Regions from separate parts of the Homo sapiens genome. Here all the other regions are reported to be linked to region 3. The links are microRNA targets in miRTarBase. Many come from high-throughput screens and were not tested one by one. Region 3 holds a microRNA gene; each other region holds the end of a gene's coding sequence.

Region 1 (3,238 bases), not on the chromosome of region 3:
TTCAATCAAGAAATCTGTAAAGCTCTTTTAACCCTGAGTTTCTCAAATGTATTTGCCTCTTTACCCCTGCTTCTTTTTCCCCTAGTACTTTTATTAACCTATTAAACCATTCTGAAGTGCAATATTTTATAGAATATTACTTAGAAAATCTACCGGGGGTTGAGGGGGTGAAGAAAACAGGACAGAAGTTTTTTGGACTACCTGTCAGTTTCAGCTTCCTTATCTATAAAATGAGGGTAAAAAGTAGTACACAGAAATAGTGTGAGAATTCAACGAGGTAATGCATTTAACCACCTAGAACAGAGTTAAGTATTCCCTGAGTAGTAGAATGATGATGAGTTGGCACCATTACTAGGCTCCCTGGGCACCCAAAGGGGTCTGGATGTTAGGATGTTAGCCCAGTGTGTCCAACCTTTGTGATACTCCTGGCACTTCTCTTGCCCCAGTCACTCAGCAAGGTGATACTCTGCCTCCACCAGCCCAAGGAGGCTGACTTGCCTGTCCACTAGAGTGACCACTGCTAACTCTTCTTCTCCCCCCTTGTTCCCAGGAAAGATGGTGAATGTGCCCCTGGAGCAGCTGCCCCTCCTCTTTAAGGTGGTGCTGCATTCCTGCAAGACCAGTGTGGGCAAGGAATGACCTGTTCCAGGCGCCCTCCTCAGGCCAACCACAGCGTCTTGGGTGGGCAGGACAGGCTCTGGAGGGAAAAGCCAGAGAGACCAAGATGGAGGCTGTGGAGCAGCATTTCCCGTTGCCTCCATAGCAAGAAGAGTTTTTGTTTGTTTGTCTGTTTTTTTAACCTCATTTTTCTATATATTTATTTCACGACAGAGTTGAATGTATGGCCTTCAACATGATGCACATGCTTTTGTGTGAATGCAGCCAATGCATTTTCTTACAGTTTACAGAATGTGAAGATGTTTAATGTTACAGTGTTGTCATTGTTTAGAAATAGTTCTTTTGTATTTTGAGGGAGAGGGTGGGATGGGGCTAAGATGACTATTTCCATAATGTTGACAAAGATGACTACCTCAATGGAAATGGGGGGTGTGGCCATCCCTACTTTTTCCACATTTTCTCAGCAGACTCATACATTTGTCTGTCAGAGAGCAAATTGCCTTTTTTAGCCACAGAATTGCCAGATAAAACGGCACACTGTAAGGGGGCAAAGTGTTGTTAGGAGATTCACTAAGCAAGGTTGGTGAGACGGCAACAGGGTAGGAGGTGAGGATTGAGCCACGTCCTTTCCTTGGAAAGCGTGAAAATTAAGAGAGTAGGGCACAGTGACCATATTTAAGGCAGGTGTCCTTCCACCCAACAAGTCCTAAGGGCAGAAGAATTTCTGTTCTCACACCTTGCTGCCCCCCTTACCCCTGCACCACCATCATTGTCTACCACTGCGAACTTTCCATCTAGGCAAAGTCCTGGCAATCACTTGATCCACAGGACTCGCCTCCCAGCTCCCTCGGGGCCCCCAGCTACCTAGTTTCCTTACCTGGATCTCCTGAGGCCCACCTTCCTCCTTCCCACTCCCTTACACATTTGACTTCCTATTGGCCCTTTGAAAAACCAGCTGAGCAGAATGCCATGTTCTGAAGCCTGGTGCCCACTACTGATTTATTCTCCTTTCACCTTGTTTTCTTCAAAGGGTAGTAGGGCAAGGCCAGACTGCAAAAAGAATAGACACTCCCCTTTTGAAATCTGTTCCTCTCCCCTCCCCTTCCTACCGCACCCTCAGGTCTAAATCCGAAAACTTCAGGCTTTTTTAAACAATGAGAAGGACCATTCACCTGTCTGCTGACCAGAAATGTTGCCCCTAAGTTCTTCTCCAAGTTCTCCTTTTCTCTCCAGAGTGAGACCAGTTTTCCTCAGGGACCCAGGACACAAAGCCCAAGGCCCAGAGTGGCTCAGCTGCCCCTTACTTCAGCAGTGGACTGGCCAGCCAAGGCCTGGAGGGCTGGAGCCAGAAGCACCTGGAAGGGAAGGGGGGCTTTAAACTACCTCAGGTTCCTAATGGCCCGGCTGCTACCTCTGCAGACATGGCCTGGACTCCTTGACCTCTCACTACCTGCCCCACCTTATCCCAGGACGTGTTCCTTACCCTCTTGACTTTGGCCAGCGCTACACCAGGTCTGTCTTTGAACTCTTTCAGGTGCTTGTCCTGCCTACACCCAGGTATCTTTCACAGCCAGTGTGGCAAGCAGACCACTTAGTTGGCTGCATGCCTGGGTAGGTTGGAAGGGCCCACGGCACCTTCTTCTGCCTATTTAGTCAAAGGCTGTTTGCTGTCTCCTCAACTCAACCTAGTAAAGCTACCCAGGAGGGCACCACGTCGTGTGCATACTGGGTAGTCCATGTCTGATTGTAATTGTTTCTTTCTGGTGAAATGTTACGGGTACCAGCAGAGTGATGATTTTGGCCCTTGATGGATCTAAAACTCGGAACATTACTCCTCAATGCCGTTTCCCCAGTTGCTCTGAGAAGGAAGAGACATGTTCCTCAGGAAAAGCTCCAGCTAGCATGTTTTTCACGTCAGTGGGAAGATTCTTGTGTGTTCGTGTGTATCTGTTTATTTCTAAGTTCACGATACTTGTTCCCCTGAATTTTATTTAACCAACTAGATCACATTCTTTGGCCACAGGTCAGACTCTGAGCTGCTTTCCTCCAGATCGGGAAGGAGACACATATCACAGATGCCTTCTCTAAGACAGCTCCTGTGTACAGCATCGTTCTTTGCTGAGGCCTCTATCTGTCCAATTATTATTTTTGAAATTGCTTTTCAAATTAAACATTTTACCCGTTGTGTTGGGTGTCAAAAGAAATTGCTCTCTGATGAGGCAAGAACATGTCTCTCCAACAACGTAGTATTGAACAGAGCAAGTTGTTAATTTGTGGAGTAGGGGAAAGGTTCTGCAAGTTGCCATTGTACAAATCCAGTTTTACAAATGTTTGCAGCAGATTCCACAGAACAAAGAGCCCATTCATTGCCGAGAGCCCTGCAGAATCTCAGAGCAAAGTGGCTGTGTGTTCCGAGCCGGAGCCTGACCTGTGGACCGTCTTTAATGTCTTCTGCACCAGTCCTTTTATGACGTGGGCTTTTTTTAAACAGGGTAAAGTGAATGTGTTGCATTGCAAACTCAGGTATTATGAGGAGAAGGTAGGAGTGTAGCTAGCAGCGTGGAGACATTAGGTCAGCCACTAGATGTATTTGTGAATTTGGTTTGAAGGACACGGAGAA
Region 2 (3,000 bases), not on the chromosome of region 3:
AGATTATGGTCCCAGGGTTATGGTTATTGTTACTAAAAAAGTTGACTACTGGGATAAAGATGTTAGGCAAAAACTGGAAAACTGTACTAAAATTTTTGAAAAAAATGTCTATGTAGATAAAAATCTTACAGAGTTTTGGTTAGATGCATATGTGCAATATTTAAAAGGTAACAGCCAAGATCCTAATGAGAAGAATACTTTTATGAACAATATTCCTGATTTTTTAAGCAATTTTCCAAATTTTCAGCATGATATTAATATTTCTTCATCAAATGAAATCATTTCTTCCCGGGGCTTCATTCAGACAACAGATGTTTCTTCCTCAGCCAAAAAGAAAATATTGTTATTCTAATTACGACGCATAGCTGAAGACTGTCAAATTCCCCTAATGGTGTATAACCAGGCATTTATATATTTTGATCAGTATGCTGCAATATTAGAAGACACTGTTAGAAATGTATTGGTTGCATCAGCAGCTATGTTCATTGTTTCCTTATTGTTAATCCCTTATCCATTGTGTTCCTTGTGGGTGACTTTTGCTATTGGTTCTGTGATTGTAGGGGTAACGGGTTTCATGGCATTCTGGAAAGTCAATCTTGATTCCATATCCATGATTAATCTTGTCATTTGTATAGGGTTTTCTTTCGATTTTTCTGTACACATTTCCTATGCATTTGTTTCTAGTTCTCAACCCTCAGTAAACCAAAAATCAGTTGAGGCATTGTATCTTCTAGGCTACCCAGTGTTACAAAGTGCAATTTCAACAATAATAGGGGTGTGTGTTTTAGCTGCAGCGAAAGCATACATCTTCAGAACATTTTTTAAGATTATGTTTCTTGTTATGATATTTGGGGCAGCTCATGGCCTAATTTTTATTCCAGTATTCTTAACCTTTTTTGGAAGGTTTATTTGAATATCCACTAACAAGTCAAAGACCAATTCTAGAATTCCTGATTGCCCTATTCCAATCTGATTTTTTTAAATGCACTATTAAGAATAGTCAACAAACTACTGGGAGGCCAAGGTGGGTGGATCACCTGAGGTCAAGAATTCGAGACCAGCCTGGCCAACATGGTGAAACCTCGACACTACTGAAAATACAAAAATTATCCAGGCATGGTGGCGTGCACCTATAATCCCAGCTACCTGGGAGGCTGAGGCAGGAGAATCGCTTGAACCTGGGAGATGGAGGTTGCAGTGAGCTGGAGTGCACCAGGCACTCCAGCCTGGGTGACAAGAATGAGACTCCGTCTCAGAAAAAAAAAAAAAAGTCAACAAACCAAAAACAAGGGCATGTTTCCTTGACTTGGAAATCCCATTTTAAATTATTATTTAAAATATACTGATAAAAATTAATTAGTCTTATGTTAAAATATCTTCACTAAATTAGGAAGTGTTATCTTTCTTACAGTCTTTACAATCAAGTACAAGGTACAACTTTTCTGTTATTTTTTCCCTTTATATTTATGCCTGAAATTCAACTATTGTATGTATTGTTCATACTATAAATGGAATATTATTTTCATTGCACTTGCTACATGCATTCATATGTGAAAATGCATCTTATCATTTATTTTCCCATTCAGGGGCTTTTCTATGCATTTTGTTAATGGTATATTTCGATAAGAAGTTTTTAAAGTTTATAAATCCAATTTATCATATTTTTTTCATGGTTAGTGCCTTCTTATCCTAAGAAATATTTTGACTACTCCAAGGTTACAATTAAAGTCATCTCTGTTTTCTCCTCTAAGCTAATAGTTTTGATCTTACATTTAGGCCTGTGATCCATACGCATGTATTTGTTGGGCAGTATCGATAGAGGTCCATTCCCTTTTCATAAAAGCTGCCCATTTGTCTCAGCATCATTTGTGAAAAGACTGTCATTCAGGATAGGATTAACTTGGCATCTATATAAAAAAAAAATCAGTTGACAATATATGTGTGGTTCTAATTCTGTGCCATCGATCTGTTTGTCTGCTCTAAGGCCAATACCACCACACAGCCTTCATTACTGAAGCTTTTTATTAATTACTGAAATTAGGCTGTGTATGTTGTCCACTTTTATTTTTATTAATCTTTCTGATTTCAAAGTTTATCTTTGTTACGTTCTTTTTTTTTTTTTTTTTTTTTTTGAGACAGAGTCTCACCCTGTCACTAAGGCTGGAGTGCAGTGGTGCGATCATAGCTCACTGCACCTAAAACTCCTGGGCTCATGTGATCCTCCTGCCTCAGCCTCTGAGTAGCTGGGACTACAGTCATGCCATTACATCTGACTAATTTTTTGTTTTAATTTTTTTTTAAGAGACAGGGTCTTTCTGCATTGGCCAGGCTGGTCTTGAACTCTTGGCCTCAAGCAATTCTTCCGCCTCAGCCTCCAAAACTGCTGGGATTACAGGTGTGAGCCACCATACCAACACTTGGTTACTTTTTTATCTTAAACTCTATAAACCAACATTGCTTTTTTTAAAGAAGGTATTCATCATCATAAAACTATACTGTAACAAAGCAATTCACTTTTACCCTGGAACTTGTTGGTTTTGGGCCTTGAATTTAACTCATCACACCAACCAATGGGTTGGGAAAAGTGAAAAACAGCAACAGTGTAGAAGTTGTATTAATGATTAGAAACGCTGGCTATTTAAATGTGACCTTGCCTAAAGGCTTTAGCCATGTTTTTGCTGTTTTGCAATCAGTGGCTCCAGCTCCTTAGTTATCTCTCCTAGACGTCAATTCCAAATTAGTTTCTTTTCCTCACCAAAAATATTTGGGGTGATGTCAGCATAAACGGGGTAGAATGTAGCTCCAAGAGCCCATTTCATCACAAAAATAAAAAAATTGAAAAATGCAACAACTGTTAGAAAAGACTCTAATTGAACTCTGAAAACGGTCCAAGGTTTACACCAACCAAGTGGACACCAAATCAGAAAAAAAGCAACTTAAAAATGGTAGGAAAATTTTGTGGCGTTTTTATTTGCCCTTGTCTCACACCCCCCTCCCTGG
Region 3 (3,238 bases):
ACATGACATCGCCCTGGATTCCCAGAGTCCTCATGACAGGAAGTGTGGAGTGGTACAGAAACTACAGCTTTAGAGTAAGCCAGGCAGGCAGTGATGGCAGGATGCTCGGAGGTATATACTCGTCTCCCTCTGCAGTCCTCCCTCTATACCCCCCTTAGATCCCAACAAGGGCAAAGCAAAATGGGGTGTTGCCTAGACCTGTTCCCTCCCATTCTTCCCCAACCCCACCTCCTTTAGGGTGAGCAGACACAGCACCATTTGATCATGCCCCTATGCTGAAATGCCTCAATAAAACAAAACAATGACAAAAGAATTGACTGAAACCAACTAAAAGCCACAACAGAGACAGGGTCTCCAGGCTGCTAGGATATCCCTCTCAGACTTCTCCCATCTGTTCTGCTCCACAGAGGCCTCCCAGCTGAGCCCTGCTGTCAGGGGAGGGCCCCTGGCCCCCTCACAATCTGTCATCTTTGACGCTACTTGGATCTTATTTCTTCTAGAGCTGCCAGGGGCTAGGAAGATACCTTGCCTGTGTGTGGGTAGGGGCCAGGAGGGCCATGCATGCCATCAGCACCAGGGCTAGGGTAAGGGGGGTATTGAGGGGTGGAAGAAAGGGATTCTGGGTTGTTGGGAATCCCGGCTAAATCTCAATTTCTCCATACTTTCCCCTTCCCTTGGGCTGCCAAGCCCTCCCATCTCCTGCCATCTGTGACAGGTGTCTCTGGGGAGACCCTCTTCTTTCTTGCTTGCTAATCACTGCATATAGACACTGAAAACAGGCTGGACTCTCTGCTCCTGGCAACTGTGTAGACATCCCTTGGGCTGATGTGAGTTCCTCTCTGTGCTGCCAAGGGATGGATTCTTCCTGCACCCTGTGCACTTTCCTTTCCTGGGCAGGTGGCCATCTCTGCCTGAAGACCTGGACCCTCAGCAAACCTGGCTGGGGGGCAGGGGCAGGCAGTGATGAAAAAACAGGGGGAGGTGACCACTGACTGCTGCTTTGAAGACTAGGTGTGCTGGGTGCCTCCAGCCCTGACCCACAGAATTAGCCAGTGATCCAGGCCCATGGACCTGAGTCTGAATCCTGGTTCTGTCCCTCACTAGTTGTGGCACTGCCCTTTTCTGGGCTTCAGCGTCCCCATCTGTAAAAGAAGCAAATGAGCTAGATGATTTCCCGCACCATCCTAACACCCTGTAAGTTAAAAATGATTCTGTTGATCTACCACTTGCATTCTTCTGGCCATTTCTCTACTCTTTAATCAAGACCCTGCTGTGACTGGTAGCTGGTAACAGTCACCTGTGAGGTAGCTGAAAGGACAGAGGACTGCCTCTGGTGCTGGGATGGTCCCCTGGGTCTGATCCCAAGACCCTGGTTTCATTACTATCACATCCTGAGCAGCTGAGTGAACCAGGCAGCTGGGAGGCAAGGAGACTAGTCATTTCCAATTTGATTTAAACCTTTTGTTTCCCAAGTCTCCTCAGCAAGGACGAAAGCAAACACTCAAGCAATATCCTGAATACTTCCTGATCATTCATTCATTTGGACATTCATTCATTCAACCCTTATGAGGCAGTACAACATCATAAGGAGTCACAGGAATTAGTTTGACCTGCTTTCTAAATCTGGCTCTGGCACTACTTAGCTGAGTAATGCTGGGCATGTTATCCGACCGCTGTAGGCCTCCGTTTCATCTCTAATATGAGGAAAATAATGGTGCTACCTACTTTACAGACAGTGCATCTAAAGCATCTGGCACACACTAGTTGTTATCATCATCAAGTTGAGTAAGTTGCTCATGGTTTCACGGGGAGACAGACGAGCACATAGCTGCCCATCACTCAGTGTGTGCAGGTTTCTTAGCAAAAGACAGGCTCCTTGGTTCTGAACGTCAAGAAAATAACTTCAACAGGAGGTTGGGGGTTAGTTTGTGGCACAAATCACTCATCCTTCCTAAAGAAAGTGAAGATGGTTCGTGGAAGCTTGAAACAGATTCTCAAATCATTAAGTGATAACAAAAAATCTATTCTTGAATTGATTTGCCCAGCTCAGGTGTGGGGACTGCCATTTTGGAATGGAGGCTCAGCGTGTGTGGTCTCGGGAGAGGGAATAGAAGGTAAGTAAGATCCTGCTCTCACAGAACGGGCATGTCTGATTCCCTTCACGCCTCTCTTCCCCTACATATCCCAGCCTGAGCCCCCATGCAGAGGGCAAAGCAACATCTAATTTGCCTGTTTCTGGCAGCTCTTGGACTTGCCAAAGCCTGTACCTGCCGCCACACATGCCCCAGAAGCCTCTGCCTGCTCCTTCGGGATGCTGCAGAAAGTGCTGACTGCGGATGCCGATTTACCGCTTCCCATTAGCCAGGCCTCTAACAGCCTCTGAGAGCCTGTGCCGGACACAGGCCCACCAGCCAGCTCTGAAAGGTCAGGCCCCAGGAGCAGGAGCCAGCCAGAGGCTTTGCGAGGCAGGCCTCGCACAGTGACCCTGTTGATGTGCCATCCTTTATTTTGTTTTAATAACAAAATGGCCTTATTTATCTTGTTTTAATCTGACAGCCTGAAAATTTCTCTTTGCGCTTGTTGAAGACATTTAGGTGGTCCTGTTTACCCTCTCTTGTCTTCAGACATCATAAATGATGCCCTTAAAAGTGTCCACATGCTGTCTGAGCCAGAGGTGCCCAATGCACATGGCTCTGAGGATGACCTCTCCCATCCCTGACTCCCATTCTTGGTTGGCTGATCATGGACTCAGTATGGAGGGCACTGGGAGAGGAGGTGGGATGCCTGAGCATCAGGCCTGAGTCTACCAGTGCTTGCCAGGATGACCTTGGGCACATAATTTAATCTCCTTAGGCCTCAGCTTGCTTATCTGAAATAGGAATAACTGTTGTCCTACATGTTTCATGATTATTGTGAGGTTAATTATGAGAGGTCCCCTTATAAAGAAAACAAAAATCATGAAAGGGACCTGCAAAGAATAAAGTACCTTAAAAATAGCTTTGGACACAAATGATTTCAGGTGTTGGTCTCACTGTCCCCCTAAGGTGGAAATTGCACAACCTTCCTGAGCATGAACAGCATGGCTCACATGCTCCAGCATCACCCCACCCTCAAGTCCTTGGCTTGGACAAACTGTAGCTCCTTCCCCCAGCCTGAGTGATACTGTTACCAAAGAAGGGCTCAGGGATAGGACAGGAAGTCCCCATAAGGATGTGGCTAGGCTGCAGGCATCATGCCT
Region 4 (3,238 bases), not on the chromosome of region 3:
AATTAGGGGAAAAATTTACAAATGCATAAAATAGAAACCAAGGTGAATTCTCATGCTGGTAATCAATCAAAGGCTTTTTACTTAACCCAAACAAAAAAAGTCACTTCCTCAAATTACAGAAACTAAAAATTACAAAGTATAAAATTGTAAGTTTCTGGTGAGATATTTTAAAGAATATCTTGAATAGTAGAGAATTGTATAAAAGGTGTTAAAGTTTCCATATTGGAAAGTGTTTAAAAACAATGAATATCAAACTAACCAAAACCATTAACAGTAGATGCATTATAGATCAATTTATAGTTTTCCTCAACATTAAGAGCAAGAGAAAACAGCCTTAAAATATACAACATTTAGGCAATTGCAATATTTAAGAAATATATGTACACATTTATAAAGATTTATAGCATAATTCTTTTTTAAAATCTAATGTAAGAATTATGCACTGGTTATAAAATTAATAAGAAAAGAACAATTATAATACCAACCATTTGACAAAATGACACTGCAGAAAATAAATAACCTACAGGTTTCTCTGATATTCCTTGACCATACAGATTAATCTAAAAATGGTAATAATGGAACATCCTTCAAACTAGAAAACATTTTGCAAAATAAATATTTATGCTTCACTTTAAAACATGAATATCCTAAATTATTTACACCATCTTATCACTAAGGCCCTGTCTATATATAAAATAAGTCAAATGAGGAATTGAAATACTGTTTTTAATTGTAGCTAACCCAAGTACACTGCCTCTCCACCTGCCACCCCCACCCCAACAAAGTATGTGTGTGTGACTTAATCAGCTTTAATTTCTACCCTAGGGGAAATTAATTGCAACTAAAAACCAGAAAATAGCTTTAACTAGGTTTTATTGGTTTGTATTGGTTTTTAGCTGTAATAAAAATAAGGTGGATAAAGAAACAAATATCTTTTTATCAACATATTTGGAATAAAAACTGTATGGTGACTTTGGGGTTTATATTAGCTATTCAAACTCTTTGATAATTGATCTTTCAATTACTATTGGTGAGACAAAAAAATTCAACCAAAGCCAAAGAAATGTCTTGTTTAATGTTCTTAAATATTTCAAGTTAAAGTAAAACAAATTTGCTAGGTATGTTAGTGTACAGATTGAAAAAGACATGAGGGAACAAAGAAAAGTACACTAGAATTATGTTTTAGTTTTCCTTTGGTATTAAGAGATATATTATCTCTTTCAAATCTATTCTGTTACTTAAAAAATATCAATAATGTAATGATTTTTCTTAAGAAGGGTGAGAATACAACAGCTGACACCTGCTTTGTGTATTAAGAAAAATATGGTTAAAACATTTTACTTCCCATAATGATTTACTTTCATGGAAAACTGAACCATTATATCATTTAAATATGTTAATAGATTAAGGACATCAGACTTTGTTTTCCAATTTTTTCTTCTGTGGGAGTATAAATATGGGGACATGACTATGGGACTATATATTTTCACATTGTTAGCACTTTGTTAGTACAGTTACTTTTAGGTATTGTCTTTTAGTAGCATTATTAAAGTTAAAAAATAAAGGAAACAGAAGTAAAGAGTTTATAGAAGGATACACAGAAATACGGTACTTATCTCTGAGTGGTGACATTAGAATGGGTTTTTCATTCTATCCTTTTTACTTTATTTATACATTGCTTATATAACAGATATCATTCAAGAGCAATGAAGATAACTGTATAATGCTATGGCGTCAACTTACCTTAGCATACAACCAACTTGATAATAAATAATGGTCAAATGGCCAAACCTACCAATCCACAGAGATCATTCAAATATCTAAAATGATTATGGATCAGACATACAGAATACCAAACATAGGATACAAACAACAACAACAACAACAACAATTTCCCATGATTAAAGCCAAGGCTTTAAAGAAGACACACTTTCTTAGGTATTTTCAACTAAATGTTATCCACCTCAAAAGTGTTTAAGCTCATGGAATGTCCATAGATTCCAGAAAATTTGTGCAATTCTGTTTTTTTTTTTGAGATGGAGTCTTTGCTACATTGCCAGGCTGGCTGAGTATCTCGATTCTCCCACCTCAGCCTCCCTTATAACTGAGATTACAAGCACATGTGCCCAGCTTAATTCTGCTTTTTATATAATACTTCCCACTAGGCATAATCTAATTGCAGTGTGGGTCATCTTAATATAAATCAGTAATCTAAAAACATTTTAAACAACTAATTTGGTGACATCCTAGAAAAGTATGCATAGTAACACAAATCCCAGAATATATGACTCTGATTTATATAACAAAATTTAACCAATTAGCTTTTCTATTTAATGCTTTAAAATAAAATGAGGAATAATTTGAAAATTGAATAAACCTAGAGAAATTGTGGCATTCTATATGTAATCCTAATTTACAAAAAATGTGAGTAAAACAGTTTTTACTTTTATTAACCATGCTACCATACCTAAATAAAATCCATACAACCATTTTGAGAGTATTTATATTGAGGTTTATGAAGTATCTATATCAAGAAAATGAGAAATTATCACCAATTTTGACTAGTATGCTTTAACAAAAAAAACCTTTTTTTAGCCTAAGTGGCTATAATATTCCTTTATATTCATATCATAAATTTTATTAGGTCAAGAAGCTAACTAGTTTGTTCAAAGTGATGATGAAAAGGTTAGTGAAATAAAAGAGAGTTATCAATAGCAGCTTTTAAAGAAGCTTCTCTTTGTTCAAGGAAACATTTTAATGTCCAATGTAATGAGAACTTTCTTCCTTTTCTAGTCTTAGAGTGTTTCTTATGGTGAAGTCCATATTTTCTTGAAACTCTTTATATGTATTGGTGATGGGAATTGCTAAACAGTTATTACACTTGTTTCCAACAGGAAAATCCACATGCAGACACTCAATTGAAGGAGTGGGTTTAAATCCAGCTGGAGGAATGGAACTGCAACCAGTTGCAAAAATAAGAATGTCTTCCATTGTTGTTGTAGATTTACCATCTGAAAAAATTTACCAATAAAAGAGTAAAAGAAACAAAAGTAAATCCATGTTATATATTGCTATCATCATAGATTCTTCTCCAAATAGACTTGGAATACTGAAAGGCACAGACTCCCACATTTGTTTTGGGCAAACTAAATCACAAAGTCAGATGTAGTAACAGGCAAACAGTACATAAATGAATCTCAAAGTAGAAGGACTAATACAATCATTTAGTACAACTACT

What was found. Region 3 holds the annotated microRNA hsa-miR-921 (CUAGUGAGGGACAGAACCAGGAUUC, at 1,080-1,104, opposite strand). A microRNA usually pairs through its seed, bases 2 to 8, with sites in the 3' UTR of a target mRNA and lowers its output. Matches are read on the target gene's strand: a 7mer-m8 pairs with bases 2 to 8, a 7mer-A1 pairs with bases 2 to 7 and ends in A, and an 8mer does both.
Region 1: miRTarBase lists NR6A1 as a target of hsa-miR-921. Seed matches in the 3' UTR shown: 7mer-A1 at 1,186-1,192 and 7mer-m8 at 2,061-2,067.
Region 2: miRTarBase lists PTCHD3 as a target of hsa-miR-921. Seed matches in the 3' UTR shown: 7mer-A1 at 1,379-1,385.
Region 4: the mRNA of G2E3 is a reported target of hsa-miR-921. Seed matches in the 3' UTR shown: 7mer-A1 at 2,687-2,693.

What each region holds. Positions count from the first base shown.
Region 1 is chr9:124,520,106-124,523,343 of GRCh38, reverse strand. It overlaps NR6A1 (nuclear receptor subfamily 6 group A member 1), which reads left to right. Exons shown (of 10, transcript NM_033334.4): 10 at 551-3,238. The coding sequence ends at 639. Among named protein-coding and RNA genes, the nearest start is that of NR5A1, 14 kb to the right of the region's middle.
Region 2 is chr10:27,395,646-27,398,645 of GRCh38, reverse strand. It overlaps PTCHD3 (patched domain containing 3 (gene/pseudogene)), which reads left to right. Exons shown (of 4, transcript NM_001034842.5): 4 at 1-1,525. The coding sequence ends at 352. Among named protein-coding and RNA genes, the nearest start is that of PTCHD3, 17 kb to the left of the region's middle.
Region 3 is chr1:166,153,694-166,156,931 of GRCh38, forward strand. MIR921 (microRNA 921) reads right to left here and starts at 1,105; the gene lies at 1,050-1,105. The region is part of intron 1 of FAM78B (family with sequence similarity 78 member B); the gene reads right to left.
Region 4 is chr14:30,616,051-30,619,288 of GRCh38, reverse strand. G2E3 (G2/M-phase specific E3 ubiquitin protein ligase) reads right to left here. Exons shown (of 15, transcript NM_017769.5): 15 at 1-3,011. The coding sequence ends at 2,755. Among named protein-coding and RNA genes, the nearest start is that of SCFD1, 4.6 kb to the left of the region's middle.